Homo sapiens: one gene and its partners. The protein of the gene in region 2 interacts with the protein of the main gene of each other region in a pairwise test. Each region holds a gene or a part of one and is shown on either strand. Other genes may lie near its edges.

Region 1 (3,749 bases), on a different chromosome or scaffold from region 2:
CACATGTTTCTTTCCAGGTACCTTCCAGGTATGTAAGGAAAGGTGTTTGGGTAGTTTATTTACAGTCAGAGGCAGCATTGGGGTGGGAAGGACGCTGAGTTGGAATCTGGAGGTGGTATGTGATGTGTGAGATTCAGGGAGAGTGCGAGCGGCTCAGATGTCTCACCGTTGTTGTCGCTGGACATGAGCTGGTAAGTCAGGAGCTTCTGGGCCTTCAAGTTGTAGGCTCCGGCCAGATTCATGGCAATCAGGATGCTGGGGTTTGGGTAGGCTGATGAAGTCACCGAGTTCTCCATGAGTACTTGTATTCCATTGACCAAGGGCTCCTGTGCTGAGGGAACGGCTGAGAAGAGGAAAGCCATTTACTCACCTTCTAACCCTCATTCCTTCTCAAAAACATTATCCCCGTGTCTTTGATGCTTTTTCTTTCTTTCTTTTTTTTTTGAGACAGTGTTACTCTTGTTGCCCAGGCTAGAGTGCAATGGCACGATCTCGGCTCACTGCAAACTCTGCCTCCCAGGTTCAAGTGATTCTCCTGCCTCAGCTTCCTGAGTAGCTGGGATTACAGGTGTGCACCACCACGCCAGGCTAATTTTTGTATTTTTAGTAGAGATGGGGTTTCACCATGTTGGCCAGGGTAGTCTCGAATTTCTGACCTCAGGTAATCCACCCTTCTTGGCCTCCCAAAGTGCTGGGATTACAGGCGTGAGCCACCTCGCCTGGCCATCTTTGATGCCTTTTAGGAGAACACTTGATTAGCATTAGTGTCCTAAGTCACTAAAGAGAAATGGAGAAAATGGTGAGATTTTACTTTTGAGGACAATTAGTTTCTACATCTTCTCAAATAATCCATATCCTTAAGAAAGTGATTTTTAAATTTAGTAACTTCAAGCAATATGGCTCATGACATTTCTCATAGTTTCTATCACTTTCCTGGAAATCACTGATTTCCTTGCATTCATTTTTTTCCTTACTCTTTCATGAAGAGTATTAAAGATTTGGGATATAATTTATCCTCAGTGAGTACCAAAATCTCTCACTAGTATGTAGTGGTGTCTGGTCACAATAGCCACTGAGTGTCTGTCTTTGTACCATCAACCATTATTCCTGCAGTAGTACTTCCATCTCTATTATTTTTATTTATTGATTTTTTGAGACAGGGTGCTGCTGTGTCATCTAGGCTGGAGTGCAGTGGTGTGATTATAGCTCACTGCAGCCTCGACCTCCTGGGCTCAAGCGATTCTCCTACCTCAGCTTTCTGAGTAGCTGGGACCACAGGTGCATGCCACTGCGCCCAGCTAATTTTTTATTTTTATTTATTTATTTTTTTTGTAGAGATGGAGTCTCACCATGTTGCCCAGGCTGGTCTTGAACTCTTGGGCTCAAGCAATCCTCCTGCTTCAGTCTCCCAAAGTGCTGGGATTACAGGTGTGAGCCACTGCACCTGGCCCCATCTCTCTTAATAAAAAACATATAGACTTGTCTCTCAAAGAACTTATGCTATTAAGTCAGGAAGGATGAACAGCACACAATCACACTCAGACTTACCCATTTTGGAATTCCTATAGTGATTGCTATTTTCAACCACTCAGTGTCAGAGGTCACAGCCCCTTCCCCAGGGCAACTGCTTCCCTGACCTCCTTGGAAAAACATCATACTCACAGCATGAACTCTGGGTCTGGGTACTAGTCCCAGCTGTAGCCCAGAGAAGGCTCAGGAGGTAGAGGGCAAACCAGGCCATCTCACTCTCTCGTCTATGTCTCTCATCCACAGGTACCGCGATTTGCAAGTGGAATATTTCTTTACCTTCTCTTATATGTGCTTCCCTTTGTTAAATAATCTGTCCCCAACCCAGCCTCTCCTAACTGCCCCTGTGCTGACCTCTCCTTTCCTGATACAAGTAAGTAAATTTTCATTTGCTTATCTAAGTTTACCGACTATAGACCCTCCAAGGTGTCTGAAGGTGACTTCTAGGTTGCACAGTCATATGAGAAACCTGGGGCTGGGTATGCAGTGAAGGCAATGTTGAGAAAATGTCCTTTACCAAAGGCCTGGGTCAGACATCAGGAAGTTTGGATAATGTGCTAGTATCAACAAGACCTCTTCTAGCCCTTATTGTATCCAATCAGTTACCAGGCTGCTTTTTAGTAACTACTTCACTGGGATTTAGGCCATTCATAGGCATCAGCTCATTTTATGATCCTAGACACCTGCTTTACAACATGTCCTTTTAGGCTCTCAGGCAGGGATCTGCCAGGTGACATCTGGCTTTGTGAAATTAATGATGTCTACCTGGACCTGGATTCTAGCCTAGACTCTTTGAAGTTGTTTGACTTTAGGCAAGAAATGGACCTCGGTTTCCCAGAAATGGTTTTGTTTGATTTCTCTTTCCTTATCTGGAGATAAAAGCCATCTCAAACACCCAAAGCTTTCAGATATTATCTTTTAAAGTAAGTAATTAGAAAATGTGAGATCCATTAAGAATACATATTTCAGATGTGTAGCTACATTATAATGCAAATTATACTTCTTTATAAGGGAGAACTGAAAATGGTATGTTGAAATTATAAAGAAAGGAGTTTTGTTTGTTTTTTTCCTGCATGTAAAGTAGCTCATTTTAAGGGGATATTCTCCAGTGGCGCCCATCTTAGCATAAAAGTCAAAGCCCTTTTCATGACCTATAAGACCTTAGAAGATCTGGCTCCTGGTTTCCTTTCTGACCTCAGCTCCAGGCGTTTTCCCCTTTGCTCACACCGCTCCCATCACACAGAACTTCTTGTGCCCCTTGAACACATCAGCTACCTTTGCACATGATGTCCCCCTCAGCCCAGGACCCTCTTCTTTTAAATAGCCTCATGGTGGCTTCCTCACATCCTTCATGTCTCTGCTCAGAGGTAAGCTTTTAGAGACGCCTTCCCAGGCCACCCTACATAAGATCCTACATCCTCACCTCCACTGACACCCCTCATGCCCCTCGCCTGCTATAACTCATTGCCCTCTGTCGCACTAAGTGTGTGGTTGTTTATCGTTTGTTTATCTCCCTACTAGAATGTCTGCTCCACGAGGGAGGGGCTTTGTCTCTTTGGCTCACTGCTCTATCCTTAGCCCTTACAACACTACCTAGCTCACAGTAGAAATAAAATACTTTTTGAATGAGTGAATTAATGAGCAAATGTAAGACATGGGTAATAAAGCATTTTTTCCCCCTTGGGAAACATGGGTGAGTTTTGTGAGATGAGAGCACAGGGTACATACTGGGGTGTGCTGGACAACTTCTAACATGGCCCTGTGTTTTCACCTCCCGGTATTCATGCCTTGTGTAGTCCTCTTCCCTAGAGTGTGGGCTGGCCTGGGGCCACATTCTATTATAATGAATATAATGCAGCAAAGGTGATGGGATGTGGTTGCAAAAGACCGATTTCCCTCTTGCTTGCCTTCTCTCTCTTGCCCTTCCTGCTCTCATGAAGGCAGCTGCTAAGTGTGAGCTGCCTTATGGAGAAGCCCACATATGGCCCCTGAGAGTAGCCTCCAGCCGATATTCAGGGAGAAAAGAACCCTTCCCCAGTGAGCTTTGAGATGAAGGCAGCCCCAGCTGACATCTTGATTGCAGCCCTGGGAGAGACCCTCCTAAGCCAGAGGACCCATGTAAACCCTCCCTGGACTCCTGACCCACAGAAACTGTGGGATAATAAATGTTGTCTTAGGCCCCTAAGTTTTAAAGTCACTTGTTATGCAGCAATATATATCCA
Region 2 (3,749 bases):
AAATAAGACAGTGTCTACCTGGATTGTTTTATGCAAAGTTGTATGTGCCAATTGCCATAAAAGGAGAAATAGCACTAAATAGGAAGCTGGGTCCCTGTGGAAAAGCTGATGGAAGTGGCTGAGGGTTGGTTAGTGATTTCTTGGACGCTCTCTCTCCAAGTCTGTCTTTGATACTGCCTTATACCCTAAATATAGCACAGAGTCTCCCATCTCCCTGGGAGTGATAACCGCACCACTGTGGTGGCGCGTCTGAGCAATGAGAGGTGGCCTGGCTTTGGAAGGAATTCACATTTTCCAAGAGGGTGGCTGTGCTGTCTTTCCCTTCTTCTGCCTCTGTCTGCTCCATGGTCAGCACTCCACCCCATGCCATGGCTATACCCTGGACTCTGAATAGAGCAAAGGGGAAGGGTGGCCACCTGAAATCTGGGCCAGCTTGGCTTTGGCACTAAATAGCATCTTCTAAAGGCCTGATTCAGAGTTGTGGAAAATTCTCCCAGTGTCAGGGATTGTCAGGAACAGGGCTGCTCCTGTGCTCACTTTACCTGCTGTGTTTCTGCTGGAGAAGGAGGGAAGAGGAATGGCTGATTTTTACCTAATGTCTCCCAGTTTTTCATATTCTTCTTGGATCCTCTTCTCTGACAACTGTTCCCTTTTGGTCTTCTTCTTCTTGCTCAGAGAGCAGGTCTCTTTAAAACTGAGAAGGGAGAATGAGCAAATGATTAAAGAAAACACACTTCTGAGGCCCAGAGATCAAATATTAGGTAAATACTAAACCGCTTGCCTGCTGTGGTCACTTTTCTCCTCTTTCACATGCTCTATCCCTCTATCCCCCACCTATTCATATGGCTTTTATCTGCCAAGTTATCCGGCCTCTCATCAACCTTCTCCCCTAGCCTACTGGGGATATCCATCTGGGTCTGTCTCTGGTGTATTGGTGTGAAGTGATGTCTCAGGGACTTGTGCAAGTGTATTCGTGTGGGGTCATTTCTACCTACTTGTCTTTTACGTAAGTAAAATAATCAGTGTAATGTGGTATATGTGTCTAGATGTATAAACTAAAACTTTTATTCCACTATGTGTCTAGATGTATAACTAACATTTTTACTCCAGAGAAGCTTTGTCTCTAGCCAAACAAACACACAAACATCTGCGTATATGGAACACACAGTGTTAGTTTTATGTTAGCAATACTGGAGTTAAGAAGTATATAGTTATCATTGGTTTGACAACAGTCTGAGTAAAAAGAAAAGTCAGAGAACATTTCTTGACCAATGGGAGCATTGGGTTACATGGACTAATAGCAAAACATTATATTATCTTCCCTTATGTGTTTGAAACTGATCAAATTTGGAGTAGACTGACTTGTTATTTTGAGGCATATGAGCATATTTTATTCAGGCTACTAAGTATAAATCACCCATGCCTATAAAGTTAAACCTAATGCAAATTCTACTTAGAGTCATATTTTTTATTTCCTATTTCTTGGAGTAATTGGAAGTGCTCTGTATGCTTTGAGAGCAATAAAACGACATTAAATACTCTTCACCTCAGACTTTGTATAAACTGGACAGGCTCTCTAACCATTTAGTTGGAATTAAGAACATTTCGTTGTAGAGCTGAGAGTGAAGTGCAGAGTTCACAAATGTTTAGAATGTCTAGAAGAGACAGCACCTGACTCTCAGACCAGACCACTGCATTCTCCTTGGGCATCCTCTGTGGTTACTTGGCAGTCCCCCTTGCACAGAGCCATCCAGGGCCCATGCCATGGCCTTTGGATCAACAGGGGGGCTTCAGTGCTTTGCTGAAAGGGCCCTGGAACTCACTTGCAGCCCAGGAACAGCCAGTGCATCCAGAACCAGCTGACCACCAGCATGATGAGGGATATGGGGAAGCTGAAGAGGAACCAGGTGCCAAAGTTCACCACCTCTGCGGCTGGATACTGGCTGGAGGGTAAAGAACCAGGTCAGCAATTAGAAAGGGAGGGTTTCCATATGGTATTTTGGGGTAGTATGCCAAATGCTCCCTAAAACATACAGCTGGGCTAAGTGGGGAGATAATGATAACGATATGGTAAAACGTTGCCTAGGACTCATTTAGTTGACAGTTGCAATTGTACAGAGCCCAGACAAGAATCATGAAACTAGCTAAAAAAAGGAATCAAAACAACTAAAATTAATATCATTAAAGTGTATATACTTTGCACTCAAGAGAATGACTCAGGACGTGTTTGCCCTTAAAGATTCTGCTAAGTTTATTCATCTGGTTTTCAAGGCAACAGAAAATGGAACAGCTTGGTATACTTTGTTTCTAAAATCACCAAAGGAATGTAAGTTTTGATTGGGGGACACAATTCTGGAGAATCTGGAGCTTTAGGGCTTAATGAAGTTTTTAGATATTAACGGTGCCCATAAGAGAACCAGGACTTGGAATCTCCAAATCTTTATCAACATCCACTGGTCTCAGGGTAGAGGGGATTTGTATGGGGAACTGCTCATTCATCAGCAGGCAGAGCTGTGGCCCCTCAGCCCAAGTGCTGTTTCCTGGGGAGCCTGGATGGACCACGCGAGAGCTGTGGCTTTTGCCTAGACGAGGCTCAGGCCTAAATGACCTATGCTGTGTTTTCCTTGGGTCTCTGTTTTTGGGGCTGGGCGTAAAACTCCTCAAGTTGTGAGACATCCCTCTATCAGTGATCCCTTCTCCCAGATCTTTAACTTCCCTCTCATCTGGATCATCCCTACCAGCATCTAAATGTCTCCCATCTTGAAAACTCCGTCTTGACCCTGCTCTACTTTCCTTTTATTTTTTTATTTTTATTTTTTTTTGAGACGGAGTCTTGCTCTGTCGCTTAGGCTGGAGTGCAGTGGTATGATCTCAGCTCACTGCAACTTCCGCCTTCTGGGTTCAAGCAATTCTGCTGCCTCAGCCTCCCAAGTAGCTGGGATTACATACAGGAGCACACTACCATGCCCAGCTAATTTTTGTATTTTTAGTAGAGACGGGGTTTCGCCATGTTGGCCAGGCTGGTTTTGAACTCCTGACCTCAGATGATCTGCCTGCCTTCGCCTCCCAAAATGCTGGGATTACGGGCATGAGCCACAGTGCCCGTCCCCTACTTTCCTTTTATTATCACCCCACATCTCTCCTTCCCTTCACAGCCAGCTCTCCATTTTCTCACCTCTACCTTAGTCCTCAACTCACCAGAATCTGGCTGCTTCTCCCACCTCTTGACCAAGGTCCTCTTGCCTACATCACCAGTAACCTCCACATCACCAAATCTAATGGATACGTTTTCATCCTTACTTTGCATCATCATTCATTGACATTAAATATTGTAGGCACTTCCTTTTTCTTGAAATACTTTCCTCCCTTGGGTAGAGTGGCACCAGATTTCCCTTCCCTCTCTGCTGTCTGATATTGTTTCCTTCTGTCCGTTAAATATGTGAGCTTAATATTTATGTCCTCTGTTCTCCTTACCCTGTATATTCTAGGTAATTTCCTCCACTCCCGTAGCTTCCCTTACCAGGAGGCAAAATGAATATGTGGCCCCTTTACCCAAAGGTTATTATGAATATCCAGGCAGGGACAGCAGAGCATTAAACCAAGCGTGACGCCTGTCTGGGCATGGTGGCCCTGTGTCCCTGTACAGGCGGCACGCCCATGACCCCAGCGCTGCAGGCCGCTCTCTTCAAATCTATGCCTTCAGCCTAAGCATTAATATTTGCCTTGACATTCACAGGTCTGTTTTCACC
Region 3 (3,749 bases), on a different chromosome or scaffold from region 2:
CGAGTTGGGCCTCCAGAGCCTGAGTCTGGGGCCTGGAACTCACTGAACTGTTGGCCCTCTCTGAGCCTCAGTTCTGCTTCCTCCACAGCCATGAACCTCAGTTTCCTCATTTGTAAAATGGGACAACAGCCATACCCCTCACAGGGCCATCCAGGCCATGCACCCACCCGGACCCCCACCTTCTCAATTGGCCACCCAGGCACTTACTTTGCTGAACCGACTTGAGTCCGCGGAGGCAGGTGGCTGCGAGCAGGAAGCCACAGCCGGTAGGGGGTGTCCGGAACTCTCCAGCCAGGCTGCAGGCGGCCCCCAGGCAGAGCGGACCCATGGCGGCCAACTGAAGTGGGTGGTGGCGGCGGCCCAGCAGCAGCGCCGACAGGGCCAGGGTGAACAGAGGTGTGGTGGTAGTAACCAGTTGTGCCAGGTCCAGGGGCACAGCCCTTAGGCCCACGTTGCCGCAGGCCATGGACGTGCCAAAGGTGAGACTGAGCAGTAGGACTCGGCAGCGAGTGCCGCCTGGCATGGGGCGCCGTGCCCCCCGGTGGCATGCCAGGGCTGCCACCAGCATGTGCAGGGCCGACAGCAGCAGGGGCCGCCCAAAGCCGTGCACTGTGAAGATCCACTTGTTGAGGCTTGACATGCTGGCTCCCGCCAGCAGCCACACCAGTGCTGCCATGGCCACTCGGGCCCGGCCAGGCTGCCGGAGGGCCTGAGGGCTGCCAGGGGGCCACTCGGGGGGCCCAGCCGCCTGAGCACCACCAGCTGCTGCTCCTACTTCGGCTGAGGTCATCCTGCCATCATGGTGCTCCGGCGGGCAGCGGCACATCCGCACCAGTGAGGCTAGGGCAGGAGGCGGGCTCCCCAGTGACGACCTCTGGGCCACCAGAGAGTTCCGCTTGGGGCCAGGCTAGATCCTGGTTCCTCCGACCCCGTGTCCCGTTTCAGACAGGTGAGGACACTGCTTACTTGTGCCAGGCCTGTGCCAGCGATGTCTAGAAGCTAAGCTGTGTTTCCAGCTCAGACAGGGCAGAGCCAAGGTCGCGGCTGCTAGGATGCCAGGGTCTCCGATGCTCAAGCGTGGGCTCCAGGCACCTCTGCCCCGTGCCAGGTGGTCTCCACTTTCCTCCTCGCCTAGTGCCCACGTTATGCTTTTAGATGAAATCCTCGTTCCTTTTTTCTCTTCAGTCCCCAGGTCATTAGGGTGCGCGCAGATCCAGACCCTGGGAACTCCTGCGTGCTCTGGCCGTGACCAGGCCTGGCAGGGGGGCGATCTGGGCTCCGCGCCTGGCGGTGCCCGGCCCGGGGGGTCGCGGGCTCGCTGCCTCCCACAGCGCCCGGGCAGTGAGCTGACACCACGGCCCGTCCTCCGGCCGGTGCCTGGCGGCGAGCTAGGCGCGGATCCAGCAGGGCCTGCGCTCCAACTCCTGCTCTCTGAGGCTTTGGCTGCGGCTCTGGCTGCGGCTGTGACTCCGGCTGCGGCTCCTGCTGCGACTCACGCCCGGCTCCAGCTCAGGCCCGGCACGGCGGGCGCGGCGGTGCGCTCTTGACTCCGCCTCCGCCTCTGCCTCCCCCGCCGCCGCCCGCTCCCTACACGGAAAATTGGGCTGAGCACCCCAGCCAAGCCCCGCCCCAGGCCAAGCCCCGCCCCCGGACCGGGAGGGCGGTCTTGCCCCGCCCCAACGCCTCCCGCTCACAGCCCCTCCCCCATCGGCCTGGCATTTCCCCCATCAGCCCTCCTCCGCCCGGGGCCTGCGCATCTGCCCAGTAGACCCCCCCACGAGCTGGCGTGGTCAGCCTCTCTTCGCCGCCAGGGGGGACCAAGTCGCTCCCCACCCAGCGCCAAGGCGAGCCCTCCATGGAGATGAACGCGCATTGCTGGAGACACTGGGGTATCCCGCACAGCCGCCCAGGCTATCTTCAAGAAGCAGGGTAGTGAGGAGGGGCCCACAGCCCCCATCCTAGGACCAGTCTTACGCCCACCTGATCTCTGGCCACAATTATCTCGTGGGACCTCAGCATCCAGCAGAGCTGGATTACGGGGTCCCTTAAGGCACCTCCATCGCCCCTCCGTAGCCCCAGCATCCTCCCCAGCCTCCCAGTCCAGGGCGGCGCCCCCTGGGGACCCTCAGAGGGAAGCTGAATCACCAGGCAGGGATACCCACAGCTGCGGAAGTAGGTACCGCCGGCCGGCATCCTTCCCCGGCCAGCAGCCTCTGTCCGGTCCCCTGAGCACTCGAAGCTGACTCATAGCAGAACTTCCTGGGGTCCACCCTGTGCCCCAGCCCCGGCAAGACAGAGCCCTGGGCTGGGAGGCAGAGCGGTTGCCACTGAGCCCTTGTTCCTGTCTGGGTCTCGGTTTTCCCACCAGAACGACAGACGCTCTCTGAGGTCAGGATTGGGTAAACGGCGCGCCCCAGGGCAGAAGAGGTCCATCCAGATTCCAGGCTAGGCCAGGCCCTGGCCCCTCTGAGCTCTGAAGTCCGGGAGCACGAGGACCAAGGCCCAGCCATGTGCCCAGTATCAGATGTGAGCCTCTTTCCTGTTGTCGGTCTTCCTACTAGGCTCCTGCCCAAGAGGACCCAGCTCACCCCTTGCCTGTTGTCTAACCAGCAAATCCTTGATGACAGCAACCTGTCTTGAGACACAAGATCTCAAAGGGGTACCGCTGAACCCAGCCCGCTGCGCCCTCTGGTGGCCAGGCGCTGAATATAGCCCTCAATCCCCATCCCAATCACAGGACGCGGGTTTAAAATCCCCAGCCTCAAAGGAGGCCTGCTGAATCAGAGGCTCTCTGTCACGGGTGGGCCTGGGAATTTACATGGTCACATTTGCCTCTGTAAGTCCGACGCCCGCTGGAGCCTGCAGATCTCTGCTGAATAGCCTAAGCTACAGCGCAGGGGGTGCAGATAGGGAAATTTCCAGGCCAAGGACCAAAAAATGGTGGCATTTAGTGTTTCTCCAGAAAGGGTTGTGGAAAGGAAACTAAGCCAGCCAAAGCGGATGGCCCCTCTCCCGCACCCCCTTGCCATTTCCTGAGGAAGAGAAATCTGGGACCCCTAAGGGTTATAATTATCTTTGATATTTTGTCAGGTTTTTTTGTTTGTTTGTTTTCCAAGACCGAGTTTCGCTCTTGTTGCCCAGGCTGGAGTGCAATGGCACGATCTCAGCTCACTGCAACCTCTGCCTCCCAGGTTCAGGTGGTTCTCCTACCTCAGCCTCCCGAGTAGCTGGGATTACAGGCGTGCGCCACCAAACCCGGCTAATTTTTGTATTTTTAGTAGAGACAGGGTTTCACCATGTTGGTCAGGTTGGTCTCAAACTCTTGACCTCAGGTGATCCACCCACCCTGGCCTCCCAAAGTGCTGAGATTACAGGCGTAAACCACCACGCCCAGCCTGGATTTTGTCAGTTTTCTAGTAAGTCTCCTTTAGTAAAAAACAATAGTCTGGGTACAGTGGCTCATGCCTGTAGTCCCAGCACGTTGGGAGGCTGAGGCATGAGGATCACTTGAGCTCAGGAGTTGGAGACCAGCTTGGGCAACAGGGCAAAGCCTCGTGTCTACAGAAAATACAAAAATAAGCTGGGAGGCTGGCCGAAGAGGTTCACGCCTGTAATCCCAGCACTTTAGGAGGCCGAGGCTGGCGGATCACTTAAGGTCAGGAGTTGGAGACAGCCTGGCCAACATGGTGAAACCCCGTCTCTACTAAAAATACAAAAATTAGCTGGGTGTGGCGGTGGGCGCCTGTAGT

Evidence for each region.
Region 1: the proteins of SLC13A4 (region 2) and CBLIF interact in binary tests that used the Homo sapiens proteins (3 or more experiments, as listed by UniProt).
Region 3: the proteins of SLC13A4 (region 2) and SLC35E4 interact in binary tests that used the Homo sapiens proteins (3 or more experiments, as listed by UniProt).

The regions. Positions count from the first base shown.
Region 1 is NC_000011.10:59,843,713-59,847,461, forward strand, and holds the start of CBLIF (cobalamin binding intrinsic factor precursor), read right to left. Parts: upstream 1,788-3,749; 5' UTR 1,742-1,787; coding exon 1,663-1,741; intron 344-1,662; coding exon 167-343; intron 1-166. UniProt on the Homo sapiens protein: Promotes absorption of the essential vitamin cobalamin (Cbl) in the ileum. After interaction with CUBN, the CBLIF-cobalamin complex is internalized via receptor-mediated endocytosis.
Region 2 is NC_000007.14:135,693,545-135,697,293, forward strand, and holds part of SLC13A4 (solute carrier family 13 member 4), read right to left. Parts: intron 1,944-3,749; coding exon 1,824-1,943; intron 695-1,823; coding exon 593-694; intron 1-592. UniProt on the Homo sapiens protein: Sodium:sulfate symporter that mediates sulfate reabsorption in the high endothelial venules (HEV).
Region 3 is NC_000022.11:30,633,528-30,637,276, reverse strand, and holds the start of SLC35E4 (solute carrier family 35 member E4), read right to left. Parts: upstream 1,497-3,749; 5' UTR 827-1,496; coding exon 208-826; intron 1-207. UniProt on the Homo sapiens protein: Putative transporter.